2 separate regions of the Homo sapiens genome follow, and region 1 is linked to region 2. Evidence: fine-mapped expression QTL. A gene starts in region 2. The other region holds a variant in brackets. All regions are shown on one strand. Distances are from middle to middle.

Evidence for each region. PIP is the estimated chance that this variant, and not a neighbour inherited with it, causes the effect. A credible set is the group of variants that fine-mapping cannot tell apart.
Region 1: its variant is the best candidate, but not a certain one, in a credible set for the expression of ATG9A in whole blood (TOPMed, PIP 0.78).

What each region holds. Positions count from the first base shown.
Region 1 is chr2:219,180,265-219,185,558 of GRCh38, forward strand. It overlaps RETREG2 (reticulophagy regulator family member 2), which reads left to right. Exons shown (of 9, transcript NM_024293.6): 5 at 406-490; 6 at 798-941; 7 at 1,105-1,199; 8 at 1,376-1,511; 9 at 1,749-5,211. The coding sequence ends at 2,365. Among named protein-coding and RNA genes, the nearest start is that of RETREG2, 4.6 kb to the left of the region's middle. The variant A/T (reference allele first, on the strand shown) is at 2,187.
Region 2 is chr2:219,227,564-219,232,929 of GRCh38, forward strand. It overlaps ATG9A (autophagy related 9A), which reads right to left and starts at 2,073. Exons shown (of 16, transcript NM_001077198.3): 1 at 1,972-2,073; 2 at 871-922; 3 at 359-490; 4 at 207-250. The coding sequence starts at 461. It overlaps ANKZF1 (ankyrin repeat and zinc finger peptidyl tRNA hydrolase 1), which reads left to right and starts at 2,243. Exons shown (of 14, transcript NM_018089.3): 1 at 2,243-2,337; 2 at 2,665-2,842; 3 at 4,365-4,477; 4 at 4,697-4,799; 5 at 4,927-5,120. The coding sequence starts at 2,695. RefSeq lists enhancers at 1,013-1,561, 1,562-2,109, 2,110-2,657, 2,328-2,437 and silencers at 1,788-1,837, 2,048-2,177.

The DNA of each region.
Region 1 (5,294 bases), 47 kb before region 2:
ACAACAGTTCACTACACTGAAGGGGAATAGAGGTGGCGGGGGATGGGAGTGGAGTGATATAAACTCCCCGCTTGGAGACCCTGAAAGAAGAGGCCTGGGCGCCTTCTTGAGGCAACATTCACAGCTAATCCCTGGTGCAGGAGGCAGTCTCACCTCAGGAAATAAGCTTTTGATAGCCTGACACTTTCTCCTGCCAAGGCAGACCAGTGTGAATTACAGGTGGTGGGCATTATGTATTGCCAGCTTCCTGAATTGGTGGTCTTGAGCATCCTCTTAACCAAACTGGACCACCCCATTCCTTGAGTACATACCCATCCTTCTACCAGCTGAGCAGTAGTTTCTTACCCAGCCGAGCGGGGCGCATATCTCAGCGTGATGTTCTTAGACTTTTGCTCTTCTCTGCAGTTCTGCGTTCGAGTCTGCTCTGGCTGTGCTGTGTTGGCTGTGTTGGGACACTATGTTCCAGGGATTATGATTTCCTACATTGTCTGTGAGTAGGGTCTGTCCCTGCCCTATTTAAAGCCCTCTCCTTTCTTCTTTCCTTGGACTGACCCAGAGGGAAGACTATGCTCTCTCTGCTCAGTTTCTGATTTGTGGAGATCTCCAGGGATGCTTTAGTATTAGTAACTGTGGAAGACTTACCTGGGGAGGAGGGCAGTGGATGTGGCAAGAAGAGGTTGGCACAGCCTTGGGAAAGGACCTTGCCTACCTTCAGCACTTCAGTTTAGGGACCAGTTGAATGGGGGCTCTTAGGAAATTGGCGTAGGGAGCTCTTAGTTCACGTTCTTAACCCATAGTGTTGAGTATCCTGCTGTGGCCCCTGGTGGTTTATCATGAGCTGATCCAGAGGATGTACACTCGCCTGGAGCCCCTGCTCATGCAGCTGGACTACAGCATGAAGGCAGAAGCCAATGCCCTGCATCACAAACACGACAAGAGGAGTAAGGGGCTGCCCTAAGCCAGGAGGGTGAAAGAGCGGGAGGGCCTTGGCTTGGGGTTCATGAGATGCCCTGGAATTGAGATCTTCTCCAGTTCTTTAGCTGTGTTTGTCTCCCCTCCCATCATTCATGCTTGGTCATTGCTCTACTACTCTTGCTTTTCTAGAGCGTCAGGGGAAGAATGCACCCCCAGGAGGTGATGAGCCACTGGCAGAGACAGAGAGTGAAAGCGAGGCAGAGCTGGCTGGCTTCTCCCCAGTGGTGAGGTCCAGGGAAAGCGGGGGTGTCAAATAGAAAGCCAGAGGAAAAATCTTTCTGCTTTGGAGCTGCCACCTCCAAAGGAGGTGGAAGCCAGAGGTTTTGGGAGAGGGGATGCTCCTGATAAATTGGTTCTCTTATCCCCTCACATGTCGTGTTCATCCTGGTTCTCCTGCCAGGTGGATGTGAAGAAAACAGCATTGGCCTTGGCCATTACAGACTCAGAGCTGTCAGATGAGGAGGCTTCTATCTTGGAGAGTGGTGGCTTCTCCGTATCCCGGGCCACAACTCCGCAGCTGACTGATGTCTCCGAGGGTATGGGGAGCCCTTTGCTGCCCTGCTCCCCGCCACAATCTTTGTGTTCCCTACCATGGGTACTTACTGTGCTCTCTGGCCCACTCACTCTCTAATTCTCTCAGCTCCTAAAAGACCTTAACACCTAAGGCTTGGCCCAGCTTTCCATGTCTTGAGTTCTCATCCTTGAACTCATTGTCTGTTGTGGCTAATCAGACCAGCAGCAGGCCCATTCTTAATTCTTTGTTCTCTGCACAGATTTGGACCAGCAGAGCCTGCCAAGTGAACCAGAGGAGACCCTAAGCCGGGACCTAGGGGAGGGAGAGGAGGGAGAGCTGGCCCCTCCCGAAGACCTACTAGGCCGTCCTCAAGCTCTGTCAAGGCAAGCCCTGGACTCGGAGGAAGAGGAAGAGGATGTGGCAGCTAAGGAAACCTTGTTGCGGCTCTCATCCCCCCTCCACTTTGTGAACACGCACTTCAATGGGGCAGGGTCCCCCCCAGATGGAGTGAAATGCTCCCCTGGAGGACCAGTGGAGACACTGAGCCCCGAGACAGTGAGTGGTGGCCTCACTGCTCTGCCCGGCACCCTGTCACCTCCACTTTGCCTTGTTGGAAGTGACCCAGCCCCCTCCCCTTCCATTCTCCCACCTGTTCCCCAGGACTCACCCCAGCCCCTGCCTGCCCCTGAGGAAGAAG[A/T]GGCACTCACCACTGAGGACTTTGAGTTGCTGGATCAGGGGGAGCTGGAGCAGCTGAATGCAGAGCTGGGCTTGGAGCCAGAGACACCGCCAAAACCCCCTGATGCTCCACCCCTGGGGCCCGACATCCATTCTCTGGTACAGTCAGACCAAGAAGCTCAGGCCGTGGCAGAGCCATGAGCCAGCCGTTGAGGAAGGAGCTGCAGGCACAGTAGGGCTTCCTGGCTAGGAGTGTTGCTGTTTCCTCCTTTGCCTACCACTCTGGGGTGGGGCAGTGTGTGGGGAAGCTGGCTGTCGGATGGTAGCTATTCCACCCTCTGCCTGCCTGCCTGCCTGCTGTCCTGGGCATGGTGCAGTACCTGTGCCTAGGATTGGTTTTAAATTTGTAAATAATTTTCCATTTGGGTTAGTGGATGTGAACAGGGCTAGGGAAGTCCTTCCCACAGCCTGCGCTTGCCTCCCTGCCTCATCTCTATTCTCATTCCACTATGCCCCAAGCCCTGGTGGTCTGGCCCTTTCTTTTTCCTCCTATCCTCAGGGACCTGTGCTGCTCTGCCCTCATGTCCCACTTGGTTGTTTAGTTGAGGCACTTTATAATTTTTCTCTTGTCTTGTGTTCCTTTCTGCTTTATTTCCCTGCTGTGTCCTGTCCTTAGCAGCTCAACCCCATCCTTTGCCAGCTCCTCCTATCCCGTGGGCACTGGCCAAGCTTTAGGGAGGCTCCTGGTCTGGGAAGTAAAGAGTAAACCTGGGGCAGTGGGTCAGGCCAGTAGTTACACTCTTAGGTCACTGTAGTCTGTGTAACCTTCACTGCATCCTTGCCCCATTCAGCCCGGCCTTTCATGATGCAGGAGAGCAGGGATCCCGCAGTACATGGCGCCAGCACTGGAGTTGGTGAGCATGTGCTCTCTCTTGAGATTAGGAGCTTCCTTACTGCTCCTCTGGGTGATCCAAGTGTAGTGGGACCCCCTACTAGGGTCAGGAAGTGGACACTAACATCTGTGCAGGTGTTGACTTGAAAAATAAAGTGTTGATTGGCTAGAACTGCTGCCTCCCTGACTGTGAGCTGCCTTCCACACCCTGCACTGCACTGTGTTCTCTCCTCACCCTTAACCTGCTTCACTCCAGTCTGTTCTGGCTGTTTATTACCTTGTTGCAAAACAGGGCCGAAGCAAGGATTACCTTGACAACCCTAGCTTCTCCTTAGCCATCTTCCTTGACAGTGTGATCTGTTTAGTGAGATTTAGCATGTGTGAATAAAGTATATGCAGGAGGAAATTGCTTTGTCTTCCCAATCGGTAGAAATTCGGGACCATAAAAATTGTGTTTTACCATGTGGCCTACAACCTTAACACTGCTTTCTTAAGAAGTCTTCACCCATCTACATGCTAACAACTCACTCAGCCTGGATTTATCTTTACTGGGGAAGCCAAACAAGCAATAGAGGACCTTTACCTGTGTTAGAAATGAGTTGGAGCCAAGGAACACTGAAGAAATAGTATCTTAACAGTTACTGAGTCCATTGTATGTGCTTGGCTCTGCTCTGAGTGATTTATATGTATTAAGATTTTTCCTCACAGGTCAGATATATACTGTTACTAACTTCATTTTATAGACAGGTTAAGCTTCCTGAAGGCCACAGGTCCCAGTAAATTGTGGAGCCAGAACCCAAACCCAAGAAGTTTTGGCTTCAGCAAATGCATCAGACAGCCCCTGTCCATTAATAGGGCACAGGTAGGAAGATGCACAAGGATGTGGGAACTATAGAGAACCAATCTGATGCCTTGGCTTAACAAAGAGTGGACATGGCAAGCCTTCCTCTTTGGGGAAGAAAAGCCCAGAACTGAGCAGATGGCCTCCTTTATGAGTTCATGTCCTCCGCCTTCAGCTGGAGGTACCATATGGCGATGCTACCTGTCTTTCTGCTGGAGGTACCATATGGTAATGCTGCCTGGCTGTCTGCTGGAGGTACCATATGGTAATGCTGCCTGTCTTTCTGAGGTTGACTTTTATGCCATGTCTTTCCTAAGTGTGTAAGAATTTTTCTGTTTGCTTCACATTTGACTGAGAATCATTCTAGGGTTTGATTGAGCCCCTGTCCTGTGCCACTAAAGGAACTCGAACTTTTCATCACTTAGAGATTTCAGAGGGGAATGGAAAAACAGTTCTAATCAATAAGCAAGCAATTCAAGAAAAATAGAATTAATCAGGCAATGACTGCAACATGTCCTATCTTTAATCTATTTTCTTATTAAGCTTGGACATTGACAATAGAACCAGAAGCTTGTAGCTGGATCAAAATATTCTCCATAGGCCTGGAGTTTCATGAGGGTCTATTCTTTTGTTGTTGTTGTTTTGGTTTTTTGTTTTTTGTGGGTTTTTTTTTTTTTTTTTTTGAGACGGAGTCTTGTTCTGTTGCCCAGGCTGGAGTGCAATGGTGCAGTCTTGGTTCACTGCAACCTCTGCCTCCCAGGTTCAAACAATTCTCCTGCCTCAGCCGTCCAAGTAGCTGGGATTACAGGTGCATGCCACGATGCCTGGCTATTTTTTGTATTTTTAGTAGAGGTGGGGTTTCACCATGTTGGCCAGGCTGGTCTCGAACTCCTGACCTCAGGTGATTCACCCACCTCGGCCTCCCAAAGTGCTGGGATTACAGGTGTGAGCCACGGCGCCCAGCCTCATGAGGGTCTATTCTTTACATTCACCATGGTCTGATGGTTGCTACATGTTTGTCTATGATTTTTTTTTTCTATTATCAGGTGTCTTGGCCGGTTCATGCCCCACGATGAAAGGGCCAGAGGTTTTCATATGAGTAAAAGAAAAAAGCAGAAATGTGAAACCTACAATTAGGCTAAACAAAAATCAACTGGAAAAGTACAGGCTGAGGGGAGAAGAGTTGGCTACATGTTTATGTTAGGGGAGGAGGGAGTACATTTTAGCTATGTATTCAAACAGCTAATAGTTTAATGTTGCTGCTTATAAACTTAATTTTAGGCTGCATTAATAAAAGTGTAGTCTCCAAAACAAGAAATGTGATAATTCTAGTGTCCTGTGCACGAATATCCTAATACTTCCAGAGGATGGCTTGCTAGGCTTGTGGGCAAATTGTA
Region 2 (5,366 bases):
CACAAAGTGGACACAGGCACACAGATCTTGGTAAATGTGGGCTATCATTACTTAACGATGATTTCACCAGCCTCTTTCAGCCTCAGGATGAGCTCCATTCCCGTTTCCAGGTATTAGAGTCAAACCTACCCCCACCTCCCACCAGAGCCCCGGCTTAGAGAGACATTAAAGGTCCCAGAGCTCCAACTCAGAAACACAAAGGATATTCGAGAGAAGAAGAGGTCAAGGTTTTCAATATGGTGCCAAGGTGCTGTGGGATAGGAACAGAGATGTCAGAGCCCTGGGAGAACACAAGCCCCTTGCTCTCTCCATGTTCTTCCATCAACTCTCCCTATGGCTGTCATATCCAAGAACTCACACTTGCTCCCCTCGGCGACGTGCACCAACAGGTCCTCCTCCCCTGGGGGTGAATCACTATAGGAGGCCTCTAGGCGCTGGTATTCAGTGTCAAACTGCGCCATCACCACCGCCCCCTGTCCACCTTGACCACCTGCCAATAAGGAGGAAGAAGAGACCCTGATTCAGTTCCAGCTGCTGCCCATGGGCTGCCCTGCCTACTGCCAAAAGGAGAAAGTACCCTTGGGCTTTGTCCACTACCAGCCTCCTTGGCTCAGAGGCAGAGGAGTAGTGACACAAGAAAGGCAGTAAGCTCAGGGCTGGGGGAGCCTTAACTCTGGCCAGTCTGGGTGTCTACTGCTGCTTTCCTGGCCCAAAGCCAGAATCTGTCCCTTTGTTGGGGGCTGTTTCATCTTCTATTTAACGGACAGAAGAGTCCCTCCCCCGCCCATCCTGGGAACCCTGGTCTCCCAAGAGACTAACAGTTTGGAAGCACTTCACAAACAAATGTTTGAGAAAAGCACATGGCCCTACCAGCTCCATGGACAGTATGTGCTCCTCTCCAGCCCTCGATGCTCTGCAGCTGCTGGAGGAGAAGATGTCAGGCCCCAGAGAGTGGGCAGTGGGGATAAAAAGGAACCCAACCCTCCCAGCCATCCACACCCCACCAAGAGGAGGCCAAGCATGGGGCAGGAAGGCTGCAGTGGGGAAGAAGCACCCTTCCAGCCCAGGACTACGAGCACTTCCTCTGGCTGTGCTAAACCGGGCCACTCTTCCAACTCCAGGGTCTCAAGAAGTAACTTAGGGACCCCATGGAGAATGAGTGGGTACAGACCTGAGGCCAGGGGCGCCTCTGGACTATTTCTCCATTGCCCTACCTTAGCCTCAGAAATGACATACTTCTCAGGGTCCACAAAACCTCAAGAGTCTTTCCTGAAGAGGACCTTTCTGGTCAACCCCTTCTCTTACTTCCCTAGCACCAAAGATCCAGCCGGTGAGCAAACCTTCTGGATGGGAAACCTTGACTGGGTCAGTGTAGACCCCCGATCCTAGGTGAATTTGTGGGTTCCCTAGGTCCTGTAAGCCAGGCATGGTCGAGGTGGTACTCACCTGTCCGTGCAGCCCCTGGGGGCCGTGGATCTTGGCCCAGCCTGGCCCCGGTGGGATTCCCTGGGCTAGTGAGAGCCCTGCCCCTCAGGGAAGTCACCACTCACAGGGTCAGTGTGGACCAGGGCCCGTGGAGCCCCGGCCGGCTGGGCCTGGGCTCAGGGGTTCCTGCGGATGTTGCAGGGATCGAGTCAGCCTTACAGCTGATAGCCCGGGTGGGTTGGCTTGCCTCCCCACACCCAGCCGCGGCGACCGTGGACCGGAGTCCACCTCGCCCCAGGGTCGCCCGGCCCCAGGCCAAGGGCTGGCAGCTCCCAACAGCGGACAACCTCGCGCGCGGCCCCGGCGCCCGCGCGCGCCCCCGTCTGCGCGCGCCAGCAATCAAAACATTCCGGCTGCGCGCCCCCGCCCCGCCGGCGGCGCCCCTTCCTCCGTTACCCGCCGCGAGCTCACTTAGGGCTCCGCAGGCACCCCTGGGCAAGGCCAGACACGGGGCCTGGGATTCCAATAACCGGTCTCACGTCTTACCTCAGGAACAGCGACCCGGGTGATTCCAGAGGCTCCGCCGGCTCCGCTCGGCTCGGCTCGGCTCGGCGCGACCCGCGGCGCTAGGCCGGGTGTCTGCCACTCACTGTCACCCGCAGCCAGGCTGGCCAATAAGCACGGGGGGCGGAGACACAACGGCCAATTCTCGGCTTCAGGGACGGGACTAAAGTCTCGAGGCGGGTCTTGGACAGTCAGCGGCCCAATAGTGTGCTCTACGTGGGGCGGGGCTCAGGTGCGGACGCCGCCGGTTGTCCTCTTCGCTGCTCCGTAGTGACGGGGATTGTTGTGTTGCAGAAATCCGGCAATCGACCTGAGGACTTGCGAGCCGCTCAGCTCCCGGGACGTTTGGTGCGTCTTCTAAGGGCGTGGGCGAGTTTACGCGGGCCAGTTGTTGCTGGTCGCATGGGTAACGAAGAAAGTTCGGCTAGGCAAGCTCAGTGATTTTTAACTCTGTTGGACTCGATTTGGGAGCCGAATGCCTATTTCATTCTTTTGTGGGCTGAGACTGGGGGTTTGAGAAAGTGGACGGGGGCCAAGGTATTCATCTCACAGTTGGTAGCAGGATGAGAGACGAGAAGTCTTGCGGTGCAGGAGAAACCAAGTCAGGCAGGCAGGAGACGCAGCAGTAGGATCTCGTTTGCAGGAGCCCTGTTTCTTACACGCTTTCTACTCCAGGAGCTGCTGCTAAATAATTTCTGCTCAGCCATGTCGCCGGCTCCAGATGCAGCCCCGGCTCCTGCGTCGATCTCCCTGTTTGACCTCAGCGCGGATGCTCCGGTCTTTCAGGGCCTGAGCCTGGTGAGCCACGCGCCTGGGGAGGCTCTGGCCCGGGCTCCGCGTACTTCCTGTTCAGGTATCCTGGAAGGTTTCGTGTGAAACGTGACAGGGCTCCTTACAGCGTATTGCCCGTTCAGGGAACACATTCTTATTGGTATTCCCGAGCTTAGGAGGCCAATTGATTTATCTTTCTGCTTGATTAAATTCACTTAATCTCTGGGTAATGTCCAGCACAGCCCTTGTTTTCAAACAAGTCTTTTTGCCATTGCATGTATCTCCTCACGTTAACACCATTCCCTTCAAAAACACTTTAAACTTTGTAGAGATAAAATTCTCAGATGTATTCCACATTTAACCAGGCCCCACTCAAATTATTCCTTTTTGCTGAATATGAAACAATTTATTATTTGTTTCGTATAGCTTTATTTTTTGAGAGTCTCGCTCTGTCGCCCAGGCTAAAGTGCAGTGGCACGATCTCCACCCACTGCAATCTCCGTCTCCCGGGTTCAAGTGATTCTCCTGCCTCAGCCTCCCGAGTAGCTGGGACTACAGGCCCGCACCACCATGCCCGGCTAATTATTGTATTTTTAGTAGAGACGGGGTTTCACCATGTTGGCCAGGCTGGTCTCAAACTCCTGGCCTCAAGTGATCCGCCTGGGTCAGCCTCCCAAAGTGCTGAGATTACAGGCATGAGCCACCGTGTCGGTCCTGTTTTGTGTAACTTTAGTTTGGCTACATCTTTTCTTGCACCTCTCCTTAGACAAACTGTACACTAATTGGAAATGTAAACTTTAAAAAGCATTTGGGAAGTAGTTTTTGTGCAGTGAAAAATAATTTTAAACTGAACAGAAATTATTTTCTTTAGGATTCACCTAAACAATCTGTTTGGCTAATTTAAATTAGACAAGACTCAAACTCAGCCAGTGGGGAGGACTTGCAGACGCTGGATCTCGGGAGAGGGCTACGTTGGAGAAGTTTAACCGACCCCAAGGCTTTTACCCTCATCGGATTCTTTTCCAGAATGCCCAGGGCCAGTTTTTATTTACATTCGTTTTATTTATTTTATTTTTCTTCATCTTTTTTGAGACAGAGTCTCGTTCTGTTGCCCAGGCTGGAGTGCAGTGGTGTGATCTCGGCTCACTGCAAGCTCCGCCTCCCCGGTTCATGCCGTTCTCCTGCCTCAGCCTCCCAAGTAGCTGGGACTACAGGCATCCGCCACCACACCCGGTTAATTTTTTGTATTTTTAGTAGAGACGGGGTTTCACCGTGTTAGCCAGGATGGTCTTGATCTCCTGACTTCATGATCCGTCTGCCTTGGCCTCCCAAAGTGCTGGGATTACAAGCGTGAGCCGCTGCACCTGGCCAATTTTATTTTATTTACATTCATTTTACGTACATGTTTTCAGAAGCATGTTTATTGCATTAAGTGATTGCTGTACTGTTTATTTCATGACTATTAGAGTGTAAATTCCTTGAAGGCAGTATCATGCCATCTCTTTTGTATCCTCCTCTGCTTTGTATATCACACTCTGAATATAATTCTTGTCACTGTGGATTTGGGCTCCCTTTCTATGTCCAATTCCTCTTCCCTTATTTAGGCTCAGGGGAGAGAGAAAGCCCAGAAAGAAAGCTACTCCAGGGTCCTATGGATATTTCAGAGAAGTTATTTTGTTCAACTTGTGACCAGACCTTCCAGAACCACCAAGAACAGGTAATAGGTCAGGTGCAGAGCTAGATGTTAGAAGCAAAAGTGTAATGGTGGGTGGGGAGAGGTAGACATTTGATTTGTCTTAATAAAGGTCCATGCTTTGACTGAGGCAGTTGGTGTTACCTGGTTGTACTTCCTAGAATACTATAACTGGTCTTGGCCAGTACAAGGCCAGGCTGGGGCATATTTCCACCTTTATCTCACTCTTTGTCTTTGTACTAGAGGGAACATTATAAGCTTGACTGGCATCGGTTTAACCTAAAGCAACGTCTCAAGGACAAGCCTCTCCTGTCTGCCCTGGACTTTGAAAAGCAGAGCTCCACAGGTGATGAGTGGTAGGGGGACCTATGTAGGAGTAGGACATGGAGGTATAAGAAAGCACTAGTTTAGAGTTTGAGGAAAGAACAAAAATGGGGTACCAAACTTGTGTATCTCATATTGTCTGTCTTCAGGAGATCTTTCCAGCATCTCGGGATCAGAAGACTCAGACTCAGCCAGTGAGGAGGACTTGCAGACACTGGATCGGGAGAGGGCTACATTTGAGAAGTTGAGCCGACCCCCAGGCTTTTACCCTCATCGAGTTCTTTTCCAGAATGCCCAGGGCCAGTTTCTTTATGCCTACCGCTGTGTCCTAGGCCCTCATCAGGCAAGTGACAGTACAGGTTGCATGGCTAACCCCAGCCTTTTGTACACCCAGCCTAGATTTCCCTTAGCCTAGTGCATTTCTCCCTGCTTCTCTTCCTTCCTGTTGGTTGTGGGTATCACGCTTGACAACATAGTCTTGAATTGAAACTGGCCTGAATTGTGGAAGGGTTAAGTGTAATGGAATTAAGTTTGGAAACAAACCAATTTAGGTTTGAATTGTGATTCTACCACTTCATCTTGACTGCCT